7 linked regions of the Homo sapiens genome follow. The protein of the gene in region 5 interacts with the protein of the main gene of each other region in a pairwise test. Each region holds a gene or a part of one and is shown on either strand. Other genes may lie near its edges. The genes, in order: FAM174A, LSMEM2, TM4SF19, ANKS6, STX7, YKT6 and GJC3.

Evidence for each region.
Region 1: the proteins of STX7 (region 5) and FAM174A interact in binary tests that used the Homo sapiens proteins (3 or more experiments, as listed by UniProt).
Region 2: the proteins of STX7 (region 5) and LSMEM2 interact in binary tests that used the Homo sapiens proteins (3 or more experiments, as listed by UniProt).
Region 3: the proteins of STX7 (region 5) and TM4SF19 interact in binary tests that used the Homo sapiens proteins (3 or more experiments, as listed by UniProt).
Region 4: the proteins of STX7 (region 5) and ANKS6 interact in binary tests that used the Homo sapiens proteins (3 or more experiments, as listed by UniProt).
Region 6: the proteins of STX7 (region 5) and YKT6 interact in binary tests that used the Homo sapiens proteins (3 or more experiments, as listed by UniProt).
Region 7: the proteins of STX7 (region 5) and GJC3 interact in binary tests that used the Homo sapiens proteins (3 or more experiments, as listed by UniProt).

Annotation. Positions count from the first base shown.
Region 1 is NC_000005.10:100,538,237-100,542,263, reverse strand, and holds part of FAM174A (membrane protein FAM174A precursor), read right to left. Parts: intron 1-4,027.
Region 2 is NC_000003.12:50,277,713-50,282,278, reverse strand, and holds the start of LSMEM2 (leucine-rich single-pass membrane protein 2), read right to left. Parts: upstream 3,193-4,566; 5' UTR 3,166-3,192; coding exon 3,108-3,165; intron 1-3,107.
Region 3 is NC_000003.12:196,328,186-196,332,212, forward strand, and holds part of TM4SF19 (transmembrane 4 L6 family member 19), read right to left. Parts: intron 1-4,027. UniProt on the Homo sapiens protein: Negatively regulates vacuolar (H+)-ATPase (V-ATPase) activity by interacting with members of V-ATPase V0 complex and hence inhibiting V1-V0 complex assembly. Required for multinucleation during osteoclast differentiation.
Region 4 is NC_000009.12:98,734,081-98,737,630, reverse strand, and holds part of ANKS6 (ankyrin repeat and SAM domain-containing protein 6), read left to right. Parts: intron 1-1,007; coding exon 1,008-1,112; 3' UTR 1,113-3,550.
Region 5 is NC_000006.12:132,450,332-132,454,358, forward strand, and holds part of STX7 (syntaxin-7), read right to left. Parts: 3' UTR 1-4,027. UniProt on the Homo sapiens protein: May be involved in protein trafficking from the plasma membrane to the early endosome (EE) as well as in homotypic fusion of endocytic organelles. Mediates the endocytic trafficking from early endosomes to late endosomes and lysosomes.
Region 6 is NC_000007.14:44,207,105-44,211,131, forward strand, and holds part of YKT6 (synaptobrevin homolog YKT6), read left to right. Parts: intron 1-283; coding exon 284-388; intron 389-1,028; coding exon 1,029-1,094; intron 1,095-3,918; coding exon 3,919-4,020; intron 4,021-4,027. UniProt on the Homo sapiens protein: Vesicular soluble NSF attachment protein receptor (v-SNARE) mediating vesicle docking and fusion to a specific acceptor cellular compartment. Functions in endoplasmic reticulum to Golgi transport; as part of a SNARE complex composed of GOSR1, GOSR2 and STX5.
Region 7 is NC_000007.14:99,926,537-99,931,316, reverse strand, and holds the start of GJC3 (gap junction gamma-3 protein precursor), read left to right. Parts: upstream 1-1,696; coding exon 1,697-2,477; intron 2,478-4,780.

The sequences.
Region 1 (4,027 bases), on a different chromosome or scaffold from region 5:
ATCTATCCCGTAAGAAGTTGGCTGGCTATACATGTCTGTAACTCAGAAAGTAATTAACAGCTTAGAGGTGGCCATTAAGGAAATGAATTTTGGATGGATCACCCAGGGAACATGGACAGTGAAAGCAGGGCCCAGAAAACACTGTCAGTTGGGAGGTGAAAGTCATTCTCTTCCACAAAAATTCAATGCATCTCGTTGTATTCTAGGAATCAGATTGGGCCTTTAGGGACCAAAGATGAGTAAGACAGAGGCCCTGCTCTCCAGACATTAGCTTGTAGAAGAGTCCTAATTAGGAAGAAGAGTTCATGGAATAAGAAATTCATGAAGAAGCTAGGCAAGAAATACTCAAGGAGGTAAGAAGAAAATCAGAAGAGATGTCTCAGAAGTCAAAGTAAGAACCAGTGCACTGAGTGCTACAGAAAAGGGGAAAATATCCATGAAACTGAGACAATGTGCTTATTAACCATCTTCTGCATGAGTAATTCTAGAGTGGTAGAATTAGAAGCCAGACTACAAAAAGCATAAGAGAGAATGAAAGGCATGGAAATGGGAACATTTCAATGGAAAATCTCTCTCCTGTCCTATGACAAGAGCTTTATTTAGATTCCCTCCTTAATGTCTTCTTAGGTATCTTCCTTTCCCATATCTTCAATATTTCCTTCTGTACTTGCTCTTTCCCCACTAATGGCATTTAAACAAGACTGGATAGTTCATTCTTAAATGGACCCCTTTCTACAGCTCTCATCCAATACTTCTCCCTGCCTGCACAGTTAAGAGTGAAATGAAATATATCCAAGCAGAAAAGGTCAACTGAAAATAGATTCAGTTACAGGGCAAGTTTGTAAAAGATTTATGCTGATTAGAGATAAATATTTAGTCTTCTACAAAAATATAATAGTTTTTGTTATGTTATGAAGTGGCTTTTCAGATGGCTTTGTCTAACAGGAATGATATTTAAGAGCAGCCTTCTCCAAATAGCTTCAGCTCTTGCTGCCACATTCCCAAAAGTTTAGTTTATTACCACAAAAAGCAGTGGTACTCCTTCACTAGATAAGCTCCTTGAACACAAATATGATGTCTTTATTATCTTTGAAGCCCTAATATTCAGAAGTTTGAGAGATATAACAGTCATTCAAATTTATCAGAAACAGATTTGTGTGGGCTTAAAGGTGGCCCATATGATAACTTGTCAAACTACTTTACATAGTCCACATTCAGCATTGTCCTACAAATCTCCTGAGCCAGGGTGTCATACAAGCAAATGGCTATTGATGTGGTGAAGCAAAGATCTCCTCAGCTCTTGAGATCACTAGGCAGTGTCTAAGGTGGATAGTATCAGGGCAGGTAGTCTCATACATTTACCCCGTATAGATATCAATGTCTATATGTGGCATTACATGAGCAAGCATTGCTCTGGCCTCAACGCCCCCAACAAACTAGTACATCTCCACTTTTACCTCCCAGAACTGCACACATAACAAATATCACTTAAAAACAGAGCATTCTATTATCACTTCACTTATGATATGATAATCATATCAGGGATTATGATCCCTGACATATCAGTTATGTCATCATCTTGGTATTTTGGCACTTGACCACATAGCAAACTAACTTGACACTTTAAAATATTTTAGGTGTATGAGTAAACATTTTGTGAAGGGAAGTTTCACCTTTGCAAAAAAATATTCATTACTTGCGAACTAGTACTTGTTAAATACATTTCCAAGTTTCTGGGTCTCTTTATATAGAAAACATTTGATATACACTGACTAGCTAAATAAATAATGGCAAACCAGGACAATTTACACATGTTAGGAAAACTCCACTTTCCAAGGAGATATGAACAATTATAATGGAAGTTCCATGAATGCAGGGACTTTCCTTGTGCACTACTAACCCTCATCACAGAGCTTAGTAATGGCACCCAATAGGTGGTAAATAATATTTACTGAATTAGTGACAGTCACTAAATACATAAATGGTTAAATAGTCAAAAGTACTCCTGGTTTTGCTTAAATTAAGTGATTTCTATGGATGTTTTATAATTTTGTAAATAGGGCTGGTACCACAAGACTTCTAGGAGAAAAAGAAAACAACTCATATTCTTAAGTAACCAGACAAAAGAGAAATGGTGATTAAAGTCACATGCATAAATCATTAGTGACTTGCTCCACTAAGGTGGAAATATGTGTGACCATATTAACAGACGTTTCTTTAAAATATTACCATTCCCTGACTATGTGTAGTAAATCAGGAAAATCTTTGGATGAGGGAAGGAATGCAGGGAGTTGAGGTAGGAAACAAAATTATTTCACCTTGGCACAAATATGATGATCAATAAATGTTAACTCACTTTTCAAAAAGGTAAAATTTGGAGGTTTAACATCCAACAAAATCATGTGTTTTAAACAGAAAGGCACTGGGCATATACTATCCACTTTATTTTTCTCCATAAATAAGCTAGCCATCTTTATGTGCAATATCGCTTTAAATTGGTTACTTTAAATGATCACAGGAAGCAGCATGATGGTTGAACATGTTAGGTAAGTTCCAGCAGAGCTGGGTTTGGGCAGGTCCTGTATGTGCACGCTTGGGCAAGTTATTTAAACTTGCTCAGCCTAAATTTCCTCAGTAAGAATGATATTACCTACTTTGAAGGTTTTTGCAAGAATTTCAAAATGCACATAAAGTATGCGGTATTATATCTGACACATAAATTATCAATTAACTATCAGCTATTAGGATGATAAGTAAAAGCTCAAAAATAATCTTTCAGTTACAAAGTATGGTTCTTTGAAAAAACCTAACGTTGTGTCTTAGCGTATAGGGTTGGGTAAGCATTCAAATTAAATTAATATTCTTTATTTCCTATATAATATGTATTAATAGGATCTGCATTTTAATGCCTTTTCATAGCATCCTTTATGTACTTATCTATGTGATTATTTGGTTAATGCCCCTCTGCTCCTCTAGTATATAAGTGTTATAGAAGCAGAAATGTTTGTTTTGCTCAAAACTGTATCCCCAGTGCCCAGTACTGGTCAGTTGAATAAATATTGACTGCTTAAATAAAGGCTATCATAATAAATTTCATGCTCATCTCCACTATATGAGCATGAGCACCATATTTTCTTGAAATTGGAAGAGACTTGCTAAAGAGCATAGAGATTTTTTTTAAAAAAAGTAGAGGGTTAAACTTTTAAGCATCGATTTCCTTCCAATATACCAAATTGAATAAAAAACGAAAAACCAACGACATGGCATGAAAAAGGAAATAATTCCCTGCTTTTAAGGCAAGAATCATTATTCAGCTATGACAAAAATTGCTTTATATAATTACCATACGTGCTAAAACCAACAACCATCTACAGTGATTTCCCCCCACCCCCGCTCCCTGGCCTTATACATTTTACTGTGGAGAGAATGTCCTACTGAGAGGAAGGAAATAAAAGTATTAATTGAGATCTTCGCAGTTCTTTGTTCCGTCAGTAAACAGCAATTATCCTTAAATTTCCAAATCCTTACCACCTACCTGTTCAGCAATATAATACATGAAGAGTGCTCATCCATTAGGCAACTGCTTATTCAGTGCCCATCATATATTGCACATGATGTTTAGCACTGAGGATATAGGGGAGAATAAGACAGAAAAGTCTCTTTTCATAGAGATTAAGTGTTCATTTTAGGCAATCTACTTTGTCCCTACCGTGTTCCTTGCATATATATATATACACTTACATATATATATATATGTTTTGTATTTCTACAGTGAGAACCTGACTGTTCTTTGGAATGTTTCCAGACTCAAAAAGGAAGTTATTATTACCTACATATTCATTATAAATGAATTAGATAAAAACAAAACTATTTGAAAGTCTCATGTAGTTCAATGTAATAAAATTTTACAAGTAAAATATTTTCTGCATCACCTCAAATCAGTTAAGAAAATAATGATTTTGGCCCATTCTTCTCCCTTGGCACAAATAACTAATTTCAGTGCACTGTCACACATAGTTTGAAAATG
Region 2 (4,566 bases), on a different chromosome or scaffold from region 5:
TGTGGCTCATGCCTGTAATCCCAGCACTTTGGGAGGCCAAGGCAGGAGGATCATTTGAGTCTAAGAGTTTGAAACCAGCCAGGGCAACGTAGGGAGACCCCATCTCTACAAAAAAATCAAAGATTAGGGCCGGGCATGGTGGCTCACACCTGTAATCCCAGCACTTTGGGAGGCTGAGGTGGGCGGATCACGAGGTCAGGAGTTCAAGATCAGCCTGGTCAACATGGTGAAACCCCATCTGTACTAAAAATACAAAAAATTAGCCGGGCATGGTGATGGGCGCCTGTAGTCCCAGCTACTCAGGAGGCTGAAGGCAGGAGAATAGCTTGAACCCAGGAGGCGGAGCTTGCAGTGATCCAAGCTCAAGCCACTGCACTCCAGCCTGGGCGACAGAGCTAGACCTCGTCTCAAAAAACAAAAAAGTAATTAAAGATTAGTTTGGTGTGGTGGCATGCTTCTGTGGTCCCAGCTTCTCAGGAGGCTGAGGTGGGAGGGTTGCTTGAGTCCAGGAAGTCAAGGCTGCAGTGAGCTGTGATCATGCCATTGTACTCCAGCCTGGGCAACAGAGTGAGACCCTATCTCCAAAAAAAAAAAAAAAAAAAAAAAAATTCCCTGCTGCCGGGCGCAGTGGCTCACACCTATAATCCCAGCACTTTGGGAGGCCAAGGCAAGTGGATCACAAGGTCAGGAGTTTGAGACCAGCCTGGCCAATATGGTGAAACCCCGTCTCTACCAAAAATATTTAAAAATTAGCCAGGTATGGTGGCAGGCGCCTGTAGTCCCAGCTACTTGGGAGGCTGAGACAGGAGAATCACTTGAACCTGGGAGGCAGAGGTTGCAGTGAGCAGAGATCGTGCCACTGCACTCCACCCGGGGCGACAGAGCAAGACTCCGTCTCAGAAAAAAAAAAAAAAAAAAGGGCCGGGCGCAGTGGCCCATGCCTGTAATCCCAGCACTTTGGAAGGCCGAGGTGGGCAGGTCACGAGGTCAGGAGATCGAGACCATCCTGGCTAACACAGTGAAACCCCGTCTCTACTAAAAAATTCAAAACAAAAATTAGCTGGGCATGGTGGCTGGCGCCTGTAGTCCCAGCTACTCGGGAGGCTGAGGCAGGAGAATGGCATGAACCCGGGAGGCAGAGCTTGCAATGAGCCAAGATCGTGCCACTGCACTCCAGCCTGGGCGACAGAGCAAGACTCTGTCTCAAAAAAAAAAAAAAATTTCCCTCTTTGTACTTTGTTGTGCTTTTCTCACACTTTCTAAATTGAATGTGAATTGTTTATTACAGGAAAAACACACAGTAAATGTTATTGTTAAGATCCCAAAAGAGGGTAGGCACAGTGGCTTATGCCTCTAATCCCAGCACTTTGAAAGGCCAAGGTGGCTGGCCGGGCGCGGTAGCTCACACCTGTAATCCCAGCACTTTGGGAGGCCGAAGTGGGTGGATCACGAGGTCAGAAGATCGAGACCATGCCGGCTAACACAGTGAAACCCCATCTCTACTAAAAATACAAAAAATTAGCCAGGCGTAGTGGCGGGCTCCTGTAGTCCCAGCTACTCAGGAGGCTGAGGCAGGAGAATGGCGTGAACCCGGAAGGCGGAGCTTGCAGTGAGCTGAGATCGCGCCACTGCACTCCAGCCTGGGCGACAGAGCGAGACTCCATCTCAAAAAAAAAAAAAAAAGAAAAGAAAGGCCAAGGTGGGAGGATTGGATTGGTTGAGGCCAGGAGTTCAAGACCAGGGAGACCCTTCTCTACACACACACATGCATGAAAGTAAACATTTCCCCCTACCAGGGGCAAGGCCCCTCTCCTGCAATGTTGAAAATGTTGGCAGTGGCTCACGCCTGTAATCCCAACAATTTGGGAGGCCAAGGTGGGTGGATCACCTGAGGTCAGGAGTTTGAGACCAGCCTGGCCAACACGGTGAAACCTTGTCTCTACTAAAAATACAAAAATTAGCCGGGCATGGTAGCACATGCCTGTAATCCCAGCTACTTGGGAGCCTGAGACAGGAGAATAGCTTGAATCTGGGAGGCAGAGGTTGCAGTGAGCCGAGACCGCACCACTGCACTCCAGCCTGGGTGACAAAAAAAAAAAAAGTTGAGGCCAGGCGCGGTGGCTCACCCCTGTAATCCCAACACTTTGGGAGGCTGAGGTGGGTGGCTTACGAGGTCAGGAGTTCAAGACCAGCCTGGCCAAGATGGTGAACCCCCGTCTCTACTAAAAATACAAAAATTAGCTAGGCATGGTGGCAGGCGCCTGTAATCCCAGCTACTTGGGAGGCTGAGGCAGAGAATTGCTTGAATCTGGGAGGCGGAGGTTGCAGTGAGCCGAGATCACGCCACTGTACTCCGGCCTGGGTGACAGAGCGAGATTCCATCTCAAAAAAAAAAAAAAAGTTGAAAATGTGATAAGAGGAGCTTGCTAGCTGGGCCATGCTCTGTCATGGGCCATAACATGGAGCCATGGAGCAGACAGTCCTACGTCCTGGCCAGTACTGGACCTGTAGCTTCCTAGATTCCTGCTGCCCTGGCCCCTCTGAGCATCAGTACTTCTTATATGCAGTGGTGCAGTTAGGTGAGTGGCCACCAAGCTCTTGACTAGCTGAGTCTCTGTCTGACCAGGCCAAGGGACCCCCAACCCTAGGCAGTTGGGGATATTTAGACCCAAGTCAGGGGAGGCCAGAGGCCTAACTACTTTTCAGTCCATGGGACAGGTACCCAAATGCTTTCTGGAACCACTACCCACCCCAATCCCAGCTTCCTTCCTTAAGAGCTGAACCGGCCAGGCAGCTGACCGGATGCCCACACCCACCTGAGCACAGCCTGTAGTTGACCCACTCCTAACTGGGTAGCTTCTCCCATCCCTCCTTGATGTCCCCAGCAGGGGAAACTGAAGCAGGGCCTGAGGTGACAAGGGGCTCCAGGCATGGCAGGCTTTTCCTCCCTGCACAGGGGGCAGGTCCTTTTACTGGAGCTGGAGCATGAAAATGGGTAACTAACTACTCAAGACAGTGAGGTCAGTGGGACAGAGGGTGGGTCTCTCCATGGTCCACAAGGTCACAGGACTGAGGCCTTGCCCTCCCTCATGGTCACCCTCTCCTACCTTCTTGGGTCTCCTCAGGCATGGCAAGCAGTGGGCAGTCGGGGGCCAATGATGGCATCCAGTAGCAGGACTGGACAAATGCAGCAGTGGCTCCTTTGTGAGCCCAGGGAAGGCCTGGCTGCCTCCCAGCCTTGGCCTAAAATAGGCCTGAGCTCAGCCCACTGGGCTATATTTAGAGGGGGCAGCCCTCAGCCATGGGAAGGGGCAGAGTGATCCACGTGGGCCAGCCTGAACTATCTACCTGGTGAGGGAGCCAGCCAGGAGCCTGCCTCCACTAGTCCAGGTGCCCAGGGACCTTCAAGGGGAAGCACACCTCCCCCATACATCCAGAATGGCCACTCCAGGCTCAGCAAGGCCCCATGTGGCAGCCAAGACAGACAAAGGAAGCCTGTGCATCTCTATTTGGCCACCCCTCTACCCCTGCAGACTCCTACCCACAGCCCAGTCATCTCTCCTCCCAGCAAACACAGCAGCCTCCACTGCATGACCTGCTAGCACACAATGCTATTGTTGTGTGTGTCTTATAGAGGGTGATGGACAACTGAATCCCAATGCCATGAGGGCTCTGATAGCTTCACAAGTGGGCAGATACACCAACAGCACCCATGCTGGCCAGTGGGTGGACCTAGGTTGGAGGCTGGTTCATTTGTTACTAAGCTTGCAACCTTAGGTAAAGGGTCTCCCCTCTCTGAACTCAGTTTGCTCATGTGTAAAGTCGGAATAACAGTGGCTCCTCCCTGGCAGTGTACACTGAGAACAACATCTGGAGCATTTAGCACAATCCACGGTTTTGGTCTTCCCCTGCTCCCATCTCCACAAGGGCAGACAGGTCCCATAAGGTTGTGTAAGGATGCGCATCACTGCTTACCTTGAAAGGAGGAGGTGGTCCAGCTTCCAGCTTTCCCTCTGTGGTTGGATCCCTGTGCCCTTCCTTCCCAGTGGGGGCAAAGCAAGACTGTGGGCTCTACTTCCTACACACCTCAAACCTGTCACTCCGTTGTCTCACACTGGCCTCCCTGATGTTCCTCAAAGTCAACAAGCTTGTTACCACCTCAGGGGCTTGGTGGTGGCTGTTCCCTCCTGGAATGCTCTGCTCCCAGATAGCCCTGTGGCCAGCCCCGTCTTGTCAGCGAACTCAAATGCCACCCCTTCAGTGAGGCCTTCTGTGTACATTCTTTTCCACATCACCCAGTTTTCTTTTCTTTGAGACAGAGTCTCGCTCTGTTGCCCAGGCTGGAGTGCAGTGGGGCGATCTCGGCTCACTGCAACCTCTGCCTCCCTGGTTCAAGCAATTATCTTACCTCAGCCTCCTGAGTAGCTGGGATTAAAGGCGCGTGCCATCACACCCACCTAAGTTTTGTATTTTTAGTAGAGACAGGGTTTCACCATGTTGGTCAGGCTGGTCTTGAACTCCTGACTTCATGATCCGACTGCTTCGGCCTCCCAAAATGCTGGGATT
Region 3 (4,027 bases), on a different chromosome or scaffold from region 5:
GCTACTGGGGAGACTGAGGCAGGAGAATTGCTTGAACCCGGGAGGCAGAGGTTGCAGTGAGCTGAGATCATGCCACTGCACTCCAGCCTGGGTGACACAGCAAGACTCCATCTTAAAAAAAAAAAAAAGTAACATTGTTATTATTCACAGATAATGTGATCACATTATGTAGAAAATCCTAAAGTTTATTAGAATTAACAGGTGAGTTTAGCAACGTCATAGAATAAAAGATTAATATACAAAAATTATATTGTATTTCTATATACAAGCAATGACAAATTGAGGATTGAAATTAAAATATATCATTTACAATAGCATAAAAATATAATACATATGGATGAATTTAACAAAATATTTGCAAGACCTATATAGTAAGAATTGCAAAGCATTGCTGAGAAAATTAATGGAGACCTAAATAAATGGAGACATATACCATGTTCCTGAACCAGAAGACTCAAAATAGTTAACATGTTCTCCCTAAATTGATGCAAAGATTTAAAGCAATATCAGTCAAAATCCTAGGAGAGTTTTGTTATAGAAATTGACAAACTGAATCTAAATTTATATGGAAATGCAAAGCAATTGTGAAGATTAGCCAAAGCAATTCTGAAAAACAAACAAAGCTGGAGAACTTACGCCATGTGATTTCAAGACTTACAAAGCTACAGTAATTGAAGACACTGAAGCCACGCGTAAGGAAACACATATGGACTACTGGAACAGGCTGGAGCTCAGAAACAGACCCGGTCCAGGAAAAATGATTTTTTTTTTTTCTTGAGACGGAGTCTCGCTCTGTTGCTCAGGCTGGAGTGCAGTGGCGCGATCTCAGCTCACTGCAACCTCTGCCTCCCAGGTTCAAGCGATTCTCCTGCCTCAGCCTCCCAAGTAGCTGGGATTACAGGTGCCCGCCACCATGCCCGGTAATTTTTTGTATTTTTAGTAGAGACGGGGTTTCACCGTGTTAGCCAGGACGGTCTTGATCTCCTGACCTCGTGATCCGCCTGTCTCGGGCTCCCAAAGTGCTGGGATTACAGGCATGAGCCACCGCGCCCGGCCAATAAATGATTTTTTAAGAAGATGACAATTCAGCGGGAAAAAGTCTCTTCCACAAATGGTGCCGGAACAATGCACATGCAAAACAAAACTGCCTTCACTATTACTTCACAACATATTCAAAAATTCACTTGAAATGGAGCATGGGTCTAAAAGCTTTATAAAATTTCTAGAATAAAACAAAGGAGAAAAACACTGGGACCTTGGGTTAGATAAAGGTTTCTTACTAAAATGCAAAAAGTACAATCCACAAAACATGATTAATCAGACTGCTTAAAAATTTAAATGTCAGCTGGGTGCTTGCCTATAATCCCAGCTACTCGGAGGTTGAGGCAGGAAAATCGCTTGAACCCAGGAGGCAGAGGCTGCAGTGAGCTGAGATCGCGCCACTGCACTTCAGCCTGGGCGACAAGAGCAAGCGACTCCATCTAAAAAAAAAAAATCATGCTAAAAGAAATAAGCCAGACACTAAAGGACAAATATTGTATGATTCCACTTATATGAAATATTCAAAATAACAACTTTATAGAGAAAGAAAGTAGACTGGAGGTTATCAGGGACTGTGGGGAGGGAGGAGAGAATGGGGAGTTATTGTTTAATGGTTACAGAGGTTTTCAGGTTTTGTTTTGTGTTGTTTTGTTTTTTTTTTTTGAGACAGAGTCTTGCTCTGTCAGCCAGGCTGGAGTGCAGTGGCGCAATCTCAGCTCACTGCAACCTCTGCCTCCTGGGCTCAAGCAATTCTCCTGCCTCAGCCTCCCAAGTAGCTGGGACTACAGGCATGTGCCACCACGCCTGGCTAATTTTTGTATTTTTAGTAGAGACAGGGTTTCACTATGTTGGCCAGGCTGGTCTTGAACTCCTGACCTCAGGTGATCTGCCCGCCTCGGCCTCCCACCGCGCGCGGTGGTTTTGGGGTTTTTTTAGAGATGCAGTCTCACTATGTTACCCCAGCTGGTCTTCAACTCCTGGACTCAAATGATCCTCCAGCCCGTGCCTCCAGAGTAGCTATGACCAGATCTGGGCCACTGCCCACGGTTTAAGGGTTACAGACTTTCTGTTTGGGGTGAAGAAAAGTTTTGGAAATAGATAATGGTAATGGTTGCACATCATTGCAAATGTAATTAATGTCACTGAATTATACACTTTAAAATGGTTAAAATGACAAATCTGATGTTACTTTACCACAATAAAAAATCAATTAAAAAATTTGTGATTACTCAAATCCTTATCAGTAATCAATAGGTGAATCAAGACAAATTGTGTTATCCATACAAATGAGTTCTATTAGGTAATAAAATGCGTAAATTTCTGCTACATATAACATGGATGAATCTCAAAAGCATTGTGTTAAGTGGAAGAAGCCAGAAACAAAAGACTACTCACATGTTTCTATATATACGAAATTCTAGAAAAGGCAAAACTTTTAACGGAGAGCAGATGAGCGGTTGCCATGGGCTGAGAATGGGAAAGAGGATTAGTATGGGGCATGGGAAGCTTTCTGAAGGGGTGGAAGCATTCTGTGTCTAGATTCTGGTGGTGAATACATAACTGTACATATTGACAAAACTCATTAAACTTTGCACTTAAAATAGGTGAATTTTATTGAATTTTAACTATATATCAATAAAGCTAATTACAATTAAAATGTCATATCTAGATAAATTATAAAATGCCTCTTCCACTCCTTATGTTCCTCTCTTTTATATTTTCATTGATATGTGAACTTCTTGTTTTTTAGAAAAATATGAATTAAGGCCGGGCACGGTGACTTACACCTGTAATCCCAGCACTTTGGGAGGCCAAGGCAGGTGGATCGCCTGATGTCAGGAGTTTGAGATAAGCCTGGTCAACATGGTGAAACCGTGTCTCTATTAAAAAATACAAAAAAATTGCTGGACGTGGTGGCAGGCACCTGTAATCCCAGCTACTCGGGTGGCTGAGGCAGCAGAATCGCTTGAGCCCAGGAGGCAGAAGTTGCAGTGAGCAGAGATCGTGCCATTGCACTCCAGCCCAGGAAACAAGAGTGAAGCTCTATCTAAAAAAAAAATATATATATATACATATATATATGAATTAAAATAGGACTAGTAATATTTGGGCAGACTCATGTCAATGTGGATCTGAAAAAAGTCAGCGTCATGACATCCCCAGGAAGTGGCCTGTTCCCACTGTGCAGTTCAGTTACACGTCTGTCTCCCCTTAAGGCTCGCTATTTATTTATTTATTTAATTTATTTATTTATTTTTTATTGAAAAAAATTTATTTTTAGCCGGGTGCAGTGGCTCACGCCTGTAATCCCAGCACTTTGGGAGGCCAAAGCCGGCAGATCACCTGAGGTCAGGAGTTCAAGACCAGCCTGGCCATCATGACGAAACCCCATCTCTACTAAAAATACAAAACTAGCCGGGCGTGGTGGCGCATGCCTGTAATCCCAGCTACTCGGAAGGCTGAGGCAGGAGAATCACTTGAACCCGGGAGGTGGAGGTTGCAGTGAGCCGAGATTACGCCACTGCACTCCAGCCTGGACAACAAGAGTGAAACTCCGTCTCAGAAGAAAAAAAAATGTAATAGAGGTGAGGTCTCCTTATGTGGCCCAGGCTGGTCTCAAACTCCTTGGCTCAAGGGCCCTCCCACTTCAGACACCTAAAGTGCTAGGATGACAGGCGTGAGCCACTGCACTTGGCCACTTGAGGCTCTTGACACGCCTATAACACACTGCTTTGCACCTAATCAGAAAATATGTGTATAGAGGCCAGGCACGGTGGCTCACGCCTGTAACCCCAGCACTTTGGGAGGCTGAGGTGGGTGGATCACGAGGTCAGGAGTTTCCGACCAACCTGGCCAACATGGTGAAACCCCGTCTCTACTAAAAATACAAAAAAATTAGCTGGGCATGGTGGCGGGTGCCTGTGGTCCCAGCTACTCGGGAGGCTGAGGCAGTAGAATGGCGTGAACCTGGGGGGCTGAGATCACG
Region 4 (3,550 bases), on a different chromosome or scaffold from region 5:
TTCTCTCCATCCATGAGCATGGGATGTGTTTCCACTTGTTTGTGTCATCTATGATTTATTTCAGCAGTGTTTTCTAGTTTTCCTTGTAGAGGTCTTTCACCTCCTTGGTTAGGTATATTCCTAAGTATTTTTTTTTTTTATTTTTTTGCAGCTATTATAGAAGTGGTTGAGTTCTTGATTCGATTCTCAGCTTGGTCACTGTTGTTGTATAGAAGAGCTACTGATTTGTGTACGTTAATCTTGTATCCAGAAACTTTGCTGAATTCTTTTATCAGTTCTAGGAGCTTTCTGGAGCTGTCTTTAGGGTTTTCTAGGTAAACGATCATGTCATCAGCAAACAGCGACAGTTTGACTTCCTGTCTGATTGCTCTGGCTAGGACGCAGTCTCTGTTCTTAACCTCTGAGTATTGCTGCCTCCGAGCCTGGAATGCAGTGATGATGTTTTCTGGGCTTAACAGAACATTCACATCCACCCTCTTTTCTCATCTGAAAATGTGTGTATAGGGGGCAGGGGGCGTTGTAGGAATAGAGTGAGAAGTGAATCTCTGTGAAGACAAATCCGGCAGCTTTTGGGCAAAGGGAAGCAAAGGCAGTTTAAACTCTTATCCTGTAGCAGAAGGACACTTGGCTCCCATTGAATTATCTGGAAATCTAAGGACTGGAAAGATGCACAGAGGCGCAGGAAAGGAGACCTCGAATCCGGGCCGTGCGACTCGGGAGAAGTCAGTCCTGCCCCGGACTCGGCCTCCCACTCTGTCCAGGGGTTTGGGGTCCTGCATCCCAGGGCCTCTCCAGCATTGACAGGCTGCGATGGTGGGTACTGGGGAGATTCTGACTCAGTATGTTTTTATTGAACTCGGTACTCTTTCAGTTAGGTAATTTATTTTCCCCAAGACGCCCATGGGTTTTTGAAGTATGAGTTGAACATTAACAACACTGTGTCAATTGAATTAATGGTTAAAAGGTTTAATAAGACTTTCTGTGTCTGTTTTCAATTTCCTCCACAGGGACGCGAGAGACAAATTTTACAGGAAACCATTCACAACTTTCACTCTTCCTTTGAGAGCAGTGCCAGCAACACCAGGGCCCCTGGCAACAGCCCCTGTGCGTGATCCTCCTTCCCGCAGCCACCAGCGTGAGCTCTCTGAATCCCGGGACCCCTTCACGTGGCCACAGCCCCAGCCCTGCCCCCGTCACACTGCTGTGCCTTAGTCATGTTGTTCCCTTTGCTCGGGATGCCCACTTCACGTCGACGGCATTCATTGGTAGTACTTCTTGCTGCAACAAACTTCAACACACAGAGACAGATTCCCATGTAACAGTCCAGTGGGGGTGCTTCTGCTTGGCAGGTTGGTTCACACAGTGATGCAGGGACTCAGCTCCTTTCATCCTGTGCTCTGCCCTCCCCGGGAGCCTCAGAGTTTGCTTCTGGCTGGCGGCAAGGGAAAGGGACGATGGAGAAGGCACGGCTGCTTCTTACCTGCCTTGCTCTTAACTGACACACATCACTCCTGCTCACGTCCTCTTGGCCACTGGTAGTCATGTGGCCCCACCTGGATGCAGAGGAGGCCAGGATGTGCAGTCTCCACATAGTGGCTTCCCAGCAACAACTTTTGACTTAGATGGGGGGTATGTATTATGGTGAGAGGTTAGCCTTCCTGGCACATCTTCCCTTAAAACTTCTAACTTGCCCCTCCTAGTCCAAGTCACCTCTCAGATGAAGTCTTTTTTGACCCCCTTTCAGCCACTGGGTCCCTTAGTGCTGTGTATGTGACTGCTGTAGCATTCCACTGCACCTGCTGCATACAGCTTACATTGGAGATGTGTATGTCAAACGCATTTTTCTTTATTGCAAAGAGAGTCTATTATAGAAGGAAAGAAGTGGAGGCCTGCTGTGTGGATCCCTTCTTCTTCCTAGCTTTCAGTTTCCTTATCTGCAAAGTGGAAGGTCAGACCAGATGATGCTCTGGTACTCCACAGTGCTCACCTGTATCACTGCAGGGCTTTCTGCACTGAAAGTGGAAGCAGAAGGCTAATGGGTCACATTGTGTAAAGGTCTCTGGTGCTCAAAGTTTCTAGGCAAAGAAGTGAAAATTTGGAATTTTGTCTACATCCTATTAATGCTGTGTTCCTCAAAAGGGAATTGGCTTGTGTAGTTTCCTACCATATCATATTTTATTAAATTAGAGGGGCCCTGACTTTTAAAACCCACTGGCTTTCTGAAGTGTTTTCCAGTGAATGACTCATTCAGCCAGTGCTTGTTGCATTTATGTTAGCTACCAGGTGCCAAGTGTGCAGACACAATACAGAGCCTTCAGGCTCTCGACAGGCAAGAGAACACCTGTAAATAGATGGTCCCGACATTGAGAGGCAGCATGGTAGAGTGGGCAGACCTTGTGCTCTGGACTCAGGTTCAAAGTTCAGATGAAGCTCAATGGCCTCTTAGTTGGAGCTTAGAACCAGTATGCCCAAAGTGCTGGGTCTGCAGGAAGTACCCAGTCGATGGTAGGCTGCACAGAATTCTGATCTCTACCTTGAGCCATGCTGAGCCACAAGTTGGTCTCCTTGGGAGGTGCCATCTCTCATCTGTCCCTCCCCCAGCCATGAAAGCCCATTCCCCTATGCTGGCTTTCAGAGGCTGTCGTTAACTTACTGCCCAGAGCCTCGTAGTTTTCTTCCCCTGCCCTGATGGTTGGGTGTTTTTCCTTTAAATTCTCTCAGCCTTACACTCACAGAAGCCAACTTTCCACAGGACTGAAGACAAAGTGTTTCATTTAGCTGTTACTGATAGACACCTTTACAAAGGTTACTAATGTCCCAGCCTTTTTAAGGAGACACACTCATTCATCCCCTACTATGTGCTGGCAGCTTTACCTTTGTCATTTCATCCTCATGGCCACCCTGGAGGTGGCATTGTGTAACCTCATCTTGCACATTCGGGAAACGGATGCTTAGGAGAGGGAAGCAGCTTGCCAGTTAAACAGCCCAGAAGGAGCAGATCTGGGGTCAGAACCGGACCTGGTGGGCTTGCAAGCCTGTGCCTTTTCCACTAACTCCTATAGACTCCTGGAGCTAGAAGCACTTGTGATTCTTGTTTTAATTTACTGATGGCTTCAGGGGTTAACAGTAGGCCTAGAATTGTTTGCCTCTGAAATTCATGGCCCCTGACGTTATGTGCTTTGAGGTTTTGTGCCTGCTTTTTGCTGTGGTCCTGTTTTTTTCATAACAATATACTGGTATAGCTTCCACTCAGGTAAGTTTGATTGAACAATGATACACAGCTGCACCGGGGGGTCACCTTTTCACAAATGTAGACCTCCATGAACTCATTGGATGACCCTGGACAGAGCGGGGCTATTCCCATTTTGCAGACAGGACAGCAGAGGCTCCAGACAATGCCTTTCCTTTCTTTTTCACTGGACTCAAGTGTCCAAGGCTTTTCATCCTAGGAAGTTTGTGTGCTGGTTCACAAGAGGTCCCTGGCACCCTTTCTGGGGATGTTTGGATGCGGCTGGTAGGCAGGGAAGAGAAAGGGCACCCCAGCGGGGGC
Region 5 (4,027 bases):
TCTGTTTTGTGATATATTGGCATAAAGTTGTTTATAGTGTCTTATTATTTTAAAATCTATGTTTGGTTATTTATCTGTACTTTCATTCCTAAATTTTTTATGTCTTCTGTTTTTTTCCAAATCGGTTTCACCAAGTTATGTGTACTTTATTTATTTAAAGAGACCAACTTTTGTTTAAATTGATCCTCTCAAAAAAAAAAAAATTGATACTCTCTTCTATAGTATAGGTTTATACTCCAGGGGTCAACCAACATTTTCGGTAAAGGGCCAGAAATTTTAAAATTGAAAAATGCAGGAATCAATATGAAACACTTAATTGATAGGCTCAATAGCAGAATGGAAGCTACTGCAGAAAGAATGAATAAATCTGAAGATAAAATGATAGAAATTACACAGTCTGAACAACAGAAGAAAACAGGCAGAACAAAGATGAACAGAACCTCAGGGACTTACGGAACTACAATAAATCTAACATTTGTGTCATCAGAGTCTCAAAAGAAAGAAGAAAGAAGGAAGACTGAAAAAGTTCTTGAAAAAAATGACAGCTGAAAACTCCCCAAAATTGGCAAAAGACATAAACATATAGATGGTGAGAAGACCTCAAATATAATAAACCCCCCAAATCTACAAGATACATCATGGTTAAACAACTAAAAACTAAACACAAAGGAAAAAAAGAAAAAGAAAAAAGACAAATGACACCTATCTATAGGGACCAAAACAATTTAAAAAACTGGATTTCTCATGGGGAACCATGAAATTTTCTTTCCTTTTTTTTTTTTTTGACAAGGAGTCTCGTTCTGTTGCTCAGACTGGAGTACAGTGGTGCGATCTCAGCTCACTGTAATCTCCGCCTACGGGTTCAAGTGATTCTCCTGCCTCAGCTTCCCAAATGGCTGGGATTACAGATGTGCACCACCATGCCGGCTAATTTTTGTATTTTTAGTAGAGGCGGGGTTTCGCCATGTTAGCCAGGCTGGTCTCAAACTCCTGACCTCAAGTGATCTGCCCGCCTTGGCTTCCCAAAGTGCTGGGCTTACAGGCGTGAGCCACCCCTCTTGGCTGGAAGTGGCAGAACAATTTTCAAGTGCTGAAAGAAAAGAACTATAAACCTACAAGTCTATGTCTAATGTAAATATTCTTCAGATATCAAGGGAAAATCAAGACATTTTCAGATGAAAGAAAACTGAGAGAATTTGTTGCCAATGGAACTACAATAATAATAATAAGGCTAAAGGAGTGCTCTAAACAGAAAGGAAATGATAAATGAAGGAGTTTTGGAATATCAGACATCAAAAGTCTAACAAAAAATACAACCAAAAACTCTACATATAAATCTGAGAGCTTAGATGAAATGGACTAATTCATCTAAAAATACAAACTGTCACAACTCAATATGAAATAGATAAATTAAACAGCCATATAACTATTGTAAAAGTGGAAATTACAATAAAAAGAACTCCCTCCCCCAAAATCTCCAGGCCCAGATGATTTCATTGGAAAGTTCTATCAAATGTTTTAAAAAGCGCTGACACCAATTCTATACAATCCGCTTTAGAAAACAGAAGAGAAAGGAATACTTTCCAGTTCATTTTGAAGCTAGTATTACCCTGATACCACCAACCAGTATGTCGCATTAAAACAGATGCAAAAATCCTTAACAAAATATTAGCCAAAAGAATTAAGCTATATATACAAAGATACACCACGACCAAGTGGAGTTTATCTCAGGGATGTAACAATGGCTCAACATTCAAAAATCAATCAATGTATCTACCACATGAATGGGCTAAAGAAGAAAAATGGCATTATGTAAATTAAGGCAGAAAAAGCATTTGACAAAATTCAACATAAAATTCATAATAAAAACTTGCAGAAAAAAAGGAATAAAAGATAACTTCCTTAACTTTAGCAAGAGCATCTACTTTAAAAACCTACAGCTAACATTATACTTCATGGTGAAACACTGAATCCTTTCTGCCTAAGACCAGAAACAAGCCAAGGATCTCTACTCTCACTGCTTTTATTTCTGCTGGAATTTCTACCCACTGCATTAAGGGACTGAAAGGAAAAAAAAAAGGAATATAGGTCAGAAATGAAGAGATAAAACTATTCATTATTTGCAGATGACATGACTATCTATATAAAAAAAAAATCCCAAGGAATCAATCAAAATCCCCTAAAATGAGTAAGTGGGCTCAATAAGGTCTCAGTATACAAAATAGAAAAATTCACTTTATTTCTATGTACTTAGAATAGACATGTGAACAGGAAATTCAAAATACAATGCCATTTACAATCTCTCTCAAAAATTAAATTGCTTAGGTATAAATCTAACAAAACATGTACAGACCTTGTATGCTGAAAACCACACAATACTGATGAAGGAAAACAAAATTTAACTGAAATGAAGTGAAGTGATCCTGTGATCATGATCGGGAAGGCTTAACATGGTAAAGATGTCAAATCTCCCCAAATTGATGTATAGGTATAACATAGTTCCTGTCAAAATCCCAGTAAGATATTTGAATAGATACAGACAAGATTATTCCAAAGTTTATACGGGAAGACAAAGGAACTAAGTGGCTAAAACAATTTTGAAAAAGAAAGTGGAATAAACCAGCCTATTTGATTTCAAGACTTACTACAGTAATCAAGATTTTGGTGTTGGTGGAGGTATAGACACATAGTCTAATGGAAAAGAATAGAAAACCCAGATATAGACCCACACGAATGTGCCCAACTGATTTCTCATTAACTCATTTTTGCTCAACTGATTTTTGACAGAGGTGCAAAAACAATTCAATGGACAAAAAAGAGCCTTTTCGACAAATATCATGTTGGAGTAATTGAATATCCATAGGCAACAACAAAAAAAATGAACCCAGACCTAAGTCTCACATTTTATACAAAATTAACTGAAAATGGAATATAGACTTAAAAGTAAAACGTAAACTATAATACTTTTAGAAAACAACATAAAAGAGAAAATTTGGGGGATCTAAGGAGAGAGGCAAAGTTCTTGATACCAGAAGCATGATCCATAAAAAGAAAAATGGATAGAGTGGACTTCATCAAAATTAAACACTTCTGCTCTGTGAAAGGCCCAGAAAAGAGAAATGAAAAGACATGCTACTGACTGGGAGGAAATATTTGCAAATCACACATCCAACAAAGGACTAGTATCTAGAAAAAAATACACACACACACACACAGAGGCACACACACACATTATTTAAAAGCCCTCAAAACTCAACAGAAAAAAAATCCAATTAGAAAAGACATGAAGAAACATGTCACTAAAGAAGAGATACAGGTGGCAAATAAGCATATGAAACAAAGATGCTCAACATCATTGCCATTAGCGAAGGGAAAATGGTAAATCAAAACTGCAATGAGCTGTCACTATACACTTATCAGAATGACTAAAATAAAAAAGAGACACCACCAAATGCTGAAAAGGACATGAAGCAACTAGATCACTCATACACCACTGGTGGGTATATAAAATAGTACAGCTACTTGGTATAAGTTTGGCAATTTCTTAAAAACTAAACATTCAACTACTATATGACCCAACTACTATATAACTGCTGGGCATTTGACCCAGAAAACTAGATTATGTTCACACAAAAACTTGTACACAAATGTTTATAGCAACTTTATTTATAGTAGCCAAAAACTGGCCCAATGTCTCTCAGCAGGTGAACAGTTAAACAAACTGTGGTACATCTATACTATGGGATTCTATTCACACTAAAAAGTACCTGTCAATAGACTTGATACACATAATAAGCTGGATTAACCTCCAGAAAATCATGCTAAATGAAAAAAAGCCAATCCCAAAAGGTTACATATTATTATGATTCCAGTTATACAGCTTTATTGAAATGAAAAAAAAAAAAACTATAAAAATGGAGAACAGATTATGGTTGCCAAGGGTTAAGAAGGGAGTAGGGATGGGAGTGAAGTGGGTATGGTCATCAAAAGCAAGATGAGGGATCCCTGTGCTAGAAAAAGTTCTGTG
Region 6 (4,027 bases), on a different chromosome or scaffold from region 5:
TAAAATTCAAATACCTTTATTACTCCCCAAGTGAGGTTCATCTCGGGCTGGGCATACTTTTGATTCTCAGAATATTTAGGATATGTTTTAATGATAAAAATTTGGAAAGAACTTTAGCCTAGATTTTCTCTGTTGCCATTATATGTCCCCCTCATTCCTCCTTCCTGGGCTGTGAAGGCCAAGGAGCCTCATTCAGGGTGAGGTGCTCAGGGGTGAAGCCCTGTCATTGAGACCACTGGTGAGTGCACAGTGGGAGGCTTGTTGAGTCTCCTTTGTCTTGCAGGTACTAGATGAATTCTCCAAGCAAGTCGACAGGATAGACTGGCCAGTAGGATCCCCTGCTACAATCCATTACCCAGCCCTGGATGGTCACCTCAGTAGATACCAGGTAGGGTTAAAGGAAGCTTCAGCAGACACCATGTGGCCCAGAATCCATGTGAAACTGAAAAAGCCAACTGCCCTGATAGTTCTGGTCTAATTACTTCTGACAGCTTCTGATGCTGGTGTCCTCTCTCAAGCCTTACTGTTTGGAAAACAGAGAATCTACGTTCAGACCGGGGAACCCAAGCTCTAGGCAGGCTTTGGGTTTCTGTTACATGTTAAACAGGCTGTGGGTTTTTTTTTTTGTTTTTTGTTTTTTGAGTTGGAGTCTCACTCTGTTTCCCAGGCTGGAGTGCAGTGGCGCAATCTCGGCTCACTCAACCTGCACCTCCTGGGTTCAAGCGATTCTCCTGCCTCAGCCTCCCGAGTAGCTGGGATTACAGGCATGTGCCACCACGCCTGGCTAATTTTTGTATTTTTAGTAGAGACGGTTTCACCATGTTGGTCAGGCTGGTCTCGAACTCTTGATCTCTGGTGATCCACCCGCCTCATCCTCCCAAAATGCTGGGATTACAGGCGTGAGCCACTGTGCCCGGCCCAGGCTGTGGTTTTTAACCTGTGAAAGTTTGTCCAGCTTCCTCAGTTTTAGGTTTTGTTTGCAGGTAGCCACTCCAGTCCTGACTTTATTATTTTTCACTCTTTCCTAGAACCCACGAGAAGCTGATCCCATGACTAAAGTGCAGGCCGAACTAGATGAGACCAAAATCATTCTGGTAAGCAGGAAGATGGAGAGCAAGCCCAAGAACTGAGGCGGGGGTGCGATTTCCACTGGCCAGGCATGCACAGATCCATCCTCGTTTTAATATAATAGTAACCACGGCACTCTCCAGCAAGTGGGATTGCCCACCCCTTCCCCCACCCCGGGCATCAGACTGTCTTTCCTATACCCTTCTCTTGGTTAATGGCACCCATTGTTTCTAGGGGACCAAGCTGGGAACCAGTGGAACCCTCAAGTCTCCCTTCCTCATGGCTACTGCCTGTCTGACCATTTACTGGGTTCCTAGGGTTTGGCTTCTGAAGACCTGGATTCCCACCCTGGTGCCTTTGTTAGGGTTTCGGGTGCCTCCACACCCCACAGGTGCCTCCCCTTGCAGCGTTTGCATTGAAGGTGAACAGATTGAAGCACCGTGCACTGACCACAGGGCAGCTTCTGGAATATGGGCCCAGGGTTGTCACATAGGCCCCTTTGAAAAGAGCCAGAACCCTGCATTTTGAGCTGAAATCTCCTGATTTGTAACTGTTGCTTCAACTCTTTTTTTTTAAATTTTTGCATACAAGTGGAATGTAAGCAGCTATCTGTTTTTCTCAGGTTTTTCTCTTACAGCCTTTGCCTCTAAGTGGTCCCCTTGCCTCCTGCTCACCTCCAGTCTGTCCACCAGAGAGTAGTCATTGATCTGCACAACTTAGAACCCTTCAGCAGCTCTCAGATCCGCCCCAGGATAAAGTGCAAACTAACTCACAGTCTCCTGACTGGGCCCTGTTCTCTCTTATACCCTTTCTTGCCCAGCTCACACACAGGCGCCTGAAGGTTGGGCCTTTCTGACCAGATGTCACAGTTTTGTCACTGCTTGTTTACATGTCTCCCTGACCAGCGTATGAGCACTGGGACATCTTTCCATCCTGCTCATGATACAGTGCCTAGTTTATACCATGCTCAGCAGTTGATAGATACCTGGAGTGGATTGAAACCCACATACAAAGCTTTACCATTTACACAGGCATAGCTTTAGTGTGTACATCAGCGTCTCCTGGGGTTGGAGTTGTTGGCCTGCGATGGAGCCTGGGAACCTGCATTTTATAAAAAGCATCCCAGGGGCTTCAAACACAGGTGTGCTGACTGCACTCCAAATAACGTGGCTTTGGAATGAACGATAGATGTGAAAGTCTCATGGTATCTGTGTCTTTTGAAACCTTGTGAGCTTTCTTACCACCTAGGTGGCATTTCTCCGTTTTCTCCTCAAGCCATCTCTTTCTGTTGCTCAAGTCCTAGTCTGAGTACCATGACACCTGGGACACCCGCTGTTTCTCCTCTCCCCACGGTGGGGAGTGGATGAGTCCTATTCACCCAGCCTCATCTAGCTGCAGTTGTAAAATCTAGATGATTGGTGTGCATATCTGAATCAGTTAACTTTCTGTGTTAAAAATTTGAGTCGCTCAGCTGTGTGTAGGGATGAAGGACATTCTTGCTGGCTCCTTGTTCTATGGCGCTTCATGTGTGCATCTAGCTGCTGCAGCAGTGGCCATCTGAGGAGAGAAGCGAGCTGCTGCTTCCTGAGGGCCCTGGCAGCAGAGCTGCTGGCTCTTGTGAGGTCTCCATCTCTAGACCCCTTCCCATGGGGTCAGTGTTTTCATTTCCTAAGTCAGAGTTTGTAGTGATGACATTTAGGACATAGCCCATTTAGAAGGCAGGACATGTTCTGTCATAGTGCTGTCTGGTATATATTTGGGGCATGTGTGTAACTTAGAATTTTCTAGGAGCCATATTTTAAAATGATAAAAGGAAAATAGGTAGAATTTAATTTAATTATATATTTTACTTAACGCAGTATATCCAAATACAATTTTTCCAACATGTAATCGGTATAAAACTTGTTTTTTTTTCAGTATAAAACTTACTAATGAAGCATGTGTGAGTTTGCATCTGAAATCTGGTGTGTCTGTACTCAGAGCGCTGCTCAGTTTGGACTTGCCTCACATCAAGTGCTCAATAGCCATTTCCCACCGCCTTTTGTTTCCTGTGGCTGCTGTCAACAGAAACCCTCAAATATTTGCTTTTAACAGATAGCTCTGTGGGCCTGGCTGGTGTCTTTTGGGGCTCTGAGTGTCTGTCCCAGGCCTCTCTCCAGCCTCTGGTGGCTGCTGGCCATCCTTGGCATTCCTTGGATTAGAGGTGCATCACTTCAGGCTCTGCCTCTGCCGTCACGTGACCTTCTGTGTGTGTGTTTCCGTTTCTTACCAGGACATCAGTCATGGAATTAGATGCCACCCTAATCCAGTATTACCTCTTCCTAACTAGTTACATCTGCCAAGACCCTATTTCTAAATATGGTCACATTCAGAGATTCTGGGGATGTTAATTTCTGGGATGCGGTTGGGGTTGGGGGGTGCGGTGTGGGTCACTCTCCAACCCAGTACAATCATATAGTGCCCAGCTACTCTTTTTTCCAAAGCTCCATGCACACGCACATGTGCGTGCACACACACACACACACACAAATGTATATATAAATGTGTGTGTATATATATATATGAGTTTTCCTGGAGTGCTGGTTATCTAAGCCTGTGCTGGGGACAGCTTTTTGGGAAGTCTGCTACATCCCAGTTAGATCTTCTAGATTTCACGGGAATGTCACCAGGTTCTGTTCCATCCACTTGGACAGTAACTATTCTTGGACCGAGTCTCGACACCTAGAGGTGAAGTTTGTGTGTGTTGGAGAGGAACCCAGGTAAGGCACTTTCCCCCATGACTGAAATATGAGGGGCTCATGTCAGGGCACGTACTGAACAGAGCTGGATTCTCTTTTCTTTTTTGTCCAGCACAACACCATGGAGTCTCTGTTAGAGCGAGGTGAGAAGCTAGATGACTTGGTGTCCAAATCCGAGGTGCTGGGAACACAGTCTAAAGCCTTCTATAAAACTGTGAGTA
Region 7 (4,780 bases), on a different chromosome or scaffold from region 5:
AGGCCGAGGCAGGTGGATCACAAGGTCAGGAGACTGAGACCATCCCGGCCAACATAGTGACCCTGTTTCTACTAAAATACAAAAAATTAGCCCGGCGTGGTGGTGCGCCCCTATAGTCCCAGCTACTCAGCAGGCTGAGGCAGGGGAATTGCTTGAACCTGGGAGGCAGAGATTGCAGCGAGCCAAGATCGTGCCAGTGCACTCCAGCCTGGTGACAGAGCGAGAGTCCGTCTCAAAAAAAAAAAAAAAAAAAAAGAAATAGAACAACTGGAACAATTGTAACAATATGCTGGCATCACTACTCTTGCTTTTTGGGGCTATTCTTAAGTAAAATAAGAGTTACTTGAACGAGTATTGATAGTTGATCTGATAACCAAAATGGCGATTAAGTCACAAACCAGCAAGGAGCGTCTACAGCGTTGGATACCCTGGACAAAGGGATGATTCACATCCTGGGTGGGATGGTGTGAGATTTCATAGTGCTACTCAGAACAGCACACAATTTAAAACATTAATTTTGTATTTCTGGAATTTTCCATTTAATATTTTTGGACCTCTGTTGACTGTGGGTAACTGAAACTGTAGAAAGTGAAATCGCAGATAAGAGGGGGGACTACTGTATTAGGTTCTAGCATATGCATCTTGATCATCATTCAGACCATACCACATGGTCTTCTGAGTGTGAGGGTAACCAGATGAGTGAGAATTTAGGCTAAATGGGGACGGTTTGAAACAGCTGCTGGGCATTGGGGAAGGCAGCTGATTAGGACAAATATAGAGATGGTGAACTTGGGCTTGTAGCATTGTGGTATTTTGGCTGGGGAACAGAGGGATTTCTGAAACTTATCCTTGATCATGGTCGCCTGTCACCATGAGGGAGATAATATGCCCAAGGAACAATGGCAAGTGGGGGTCAAAAATCTGAATTTCTATCTAGTCAGTTCTGGCTCTGGCCCCAAATCCTATAGTATGTAATTCTGGTAAATTCTGCTGGGTTACCTTCCAAATGTTCTCTTCTTCCTCAGCTTGTAAGGCCTAAGAGCATCAGACTAAAGCAAGCCTCGATGCTTGCTCTGTTCATTTCATCCATCACATCTAGCCCCATAACCTAACTACCTCTCAACTTTACCACTGTGATGGGAGAAGAGGACATCCAGACACACCTGTGATCATCCAAGGGCATGGAGGAAGAGAAAAGAAGACCGCAAGAGAATGCACATTCCCTCTCAGCATCAGCACTAATTTGCTTAAGATGATGCTGTAGGAGCACCAGGCCTGGCAGCCATCAGCTGGGGAAGCAATACCTTTCAAAGGAAAATTAACAAAACATCCCAGTCTACTCTCTTACGTTCAGCCTTTGGGAAAGAGAGACGGAGGGAAGGAGGGAAAGAGAGAGATGAAGATGTATCCTGGTCTCTCCAACCTGAGAGTTCCTCTCCACTCCAGCAGTACAGAAGGGGAGGGCAGAAGAGAGAGCCACACCACACACACTCACTGTTATTATTTTACATAGATGATTTCATTAAGTAGTAAAGAGGTGCAATCAGAGTCTTGGTATTTAATCAGTCAGATACTTGGAGAGGAATAAAAAAGCTTGCCTTCAGTGATCCTTGGATTAGGAGTGACAAGGTGGACTGGAGCTCCCTCTGAAGGACAGTGAACAACACTGATCTCTTGTCCTCTGCTCCAAAACAGGATGTGTGGCAGGTTCCTGCGGCGGCTGCTGGCGGAGGAGAGCCGGCGCTCCACCCCCGTGGGGCGCCTCTTGCTTCCCGTGCTCCTGGGATTCCGCCTTGTGCTGCTGGCTGCCAGTGGGCCTGGAGTCTATGGTGATGAGCAGAGTGAATTCGTGTGTCACACCCAGCAGCCGGGCTGCAAGGCTGCCTGCTTCGATGCCTTCCACCCCCTCTCCCCGCTGCGTTTCTGGGTCTTCCAGGTCATCTTGGTGGCTGTACCCAGCGCCCTCTATATGGGTTTCACTCTGTATCACGTGATCTGGCACTGGGAATTATCAGGAAAGGGGAAGGAGGAGGAGACCCTGATCCAGGGACGGGAGGGCAACACAGATGTCCCAGGGGCTGGAAGCCTCAGGCTGCTCTGGGCTTATGTGGCTCAGCTGGGGGCTCGGCTTGTCCTGGAGGGGGCAGCCCTGGGGTTGCAGTACCACCTGTATGGGTTCCAGATGCCCAGCTCCTTTGCATGTCGCCGAGAACCTTGCCTTGGTAGTATAACCTGCAATCTGTCCCGCCCCTCTGAGAAGACCATTTTCCTAAAGACCATGTTTGGAGTCAGCGGTTTCTGTCTCTTGTTTACTTTTTTGGAGCTTGTGCTTCTGGGTTTGGGGAGATGGTGGAGGACCTGGAAGCACAAATCTTCCTCTTCTAAATACTTCCTAACTTCAGAGAGCACCAGAAGACACAAGAAAGCAACCGATAGCCTCCCAGTGGTGGAAACCAAAGAGCAATTTCAAGAAGCAGGTGAGAAGGACACGCTCTCTTCCTGTCACTGATGTTTGTGTCCTGATGATCTCCTCCCGGGGCAGGTCCCTCACCTTTCTGGGAAGTACAACTTCTGCATGTTACAAAGTAGGTAACCAGGTTCTAGGCAGATGTGTTCTGACCGCCACTCCCAACCCTTTTCTTTGTTCTCTCTTGCTCTCAAAATCTATCCCAATGTCCATCCCCATCAACTTGATGGTTCCTTCCAGCGAACAAGGACAAGAGTGCTAGTCCGTTGTCCCTCCTGAACTTCCATTTAGGTCTCTCTCCACTTAGGAAAAATCTCAGCTTCTTCTTGATTCTCTACTTTGCAGAGTTATAAAGACACCTGACTTGCCTGAAGGAAACTCTGTGATTGAATCTTCTTTCCAACATCCAGTGAGTGGGGATTCATGTCTGTGACAAATTAGAGGCTGTTGAAGGATCTCTAAGGGCCCCTTGGGCCATGTAGTCTAAAGCATTTCCTGACTGTGCCTTTTCACTGGAATTTTCTGGTGTCAGCATCACAATTTTTATGGGCTTGGTTCAAGAGTCAGCCGGGAGAAGCCTCCCTAAACTGTGTCTCTCCCCTGTCCTGCTCAATAAATATTGATGACTGCTGTTGGCATTCCTGTTGCTGAAGATAATGCCCCTTCCTGTCTCACTGGCTTCATTTACCTCTTTTCTGTTTTTCCACATTCTCTGCTCCCCTTATCATCAAAGTTTTGTAAATGAATGCCCCTCAGACCTGCAGCACATGTCATAAGCCAGAAACTCTGGGCTTCAAGCATATATAAGTCAGTGTCCTCTAATATCTATAGATTTATCCAAATACCCGGCCATATCCTTAAGGAAAATTACTGTGAATTCAGGGGCTTAGGCCCCCTTGATCACTGATAGCTCTGATTTCTGCTCAATTCTCATTCTTCATTTCTGCAGTTCTCGTTGCAGCTTGTTACAATTGTCTCCAGAACTGCAGCAACTCATGCTGGACCAAGTTCCTACTCTTTAATTTCATAACCCTCAATACCACACAGAAAAAGCAGTAGAGTTCTACTGCTGATATGCTGATTTGGGAGTAACAGCAAGGGAGGCTGACATCACAGTGTGATTCGGCGGGTAACTGCAATCTGAATATCAGTCTTCTCGAGTCTCTTAGTCATTTCTGTTGGACAGTGTTGTTCTATCCCTTTTTTTTTTTAACAGAACGCTGCCCTCTTTTCTTAGTTTTCTCTTGCCCTGAAATTCTCAACAAAGGCAGTTATCTATTTTTTTTTCTCTTTCTGAATCCCAAATTATCCCCAAGTAAGTTAGGGGATCCCAAGGGATGCTTTGGCAATAGCTAGGAAATTTTTTTTTTCTTCCTGCTACACAAGTGCTTCATAAGAATCCCTCATCCACTGTAGCCAGAGCCCAGCCAAAGTGACCAAGGAAAAACGCAAATAGCATCATTTGGAATTCTTCCTTATACCACCCCCTTTTAAAACAGCTTTATTGAGATATAATTCATACACCATATAATTTATCCACTTAAAGTGAGGCAGGAGAATAGGTTCTGGAGGAAGGGAACCTAAGGCTGTTTCACGCCAACTTCCTAGGACTAAATTGAAAGGAAAACTCTAACTTTCCTTGCCTAAGTAACACAAGGACCAGAGGCTACTCCCTTTGCAACACCCCCACCTTTTCTGTGCAGCAGATGGGAAATTGCCTGTCCCCAACAAATCAGGCTGTTTGCAGATGAGTCTTCCTTTGCAACTTCGTAACTTCTTCCTAGCCTCTGATTGGTTGCTTTCTGCAAAGCATGAACTGGCCAAAGGGAAACTTCTAGTGGGTACTGGGACCCAAGAAGATTGTGTATCCGTGCCCTTGAACCGCTGCTCGGATTGCTCCCACACTGTGGCGTGTACTTTGGTTTTCAATAAATCCCTGCTTTCGTTCTTTTGTTGCTTCATCCTTTCTTTGCTTTGCTAGGAGTTTTGTCCAATTCCTTGTTCAAAACGCCAAGAACCTGGACAACTTGCAGTCACTATCCTCTACCAGTGACAAAAGTATACAATTAAATAGCCTTTAGTATATTCAGAGTTGTATATCCATCAACACTACCAATTTAATAACATTTTCATCAACTTAAAAAAACCCTACCCCCTCATGTTACTCTCAAACTCTTATTAGCACCCAAAACATGCAACCATCATATGGTTTTGTCTCTATTGGTTTTCCTACTCTTTCATACAAATGGAATCATGCAATATGTGGTCTTTCATGTCTGGCTTCTTTCACTGAGCATAACTTGAGGTTCATTC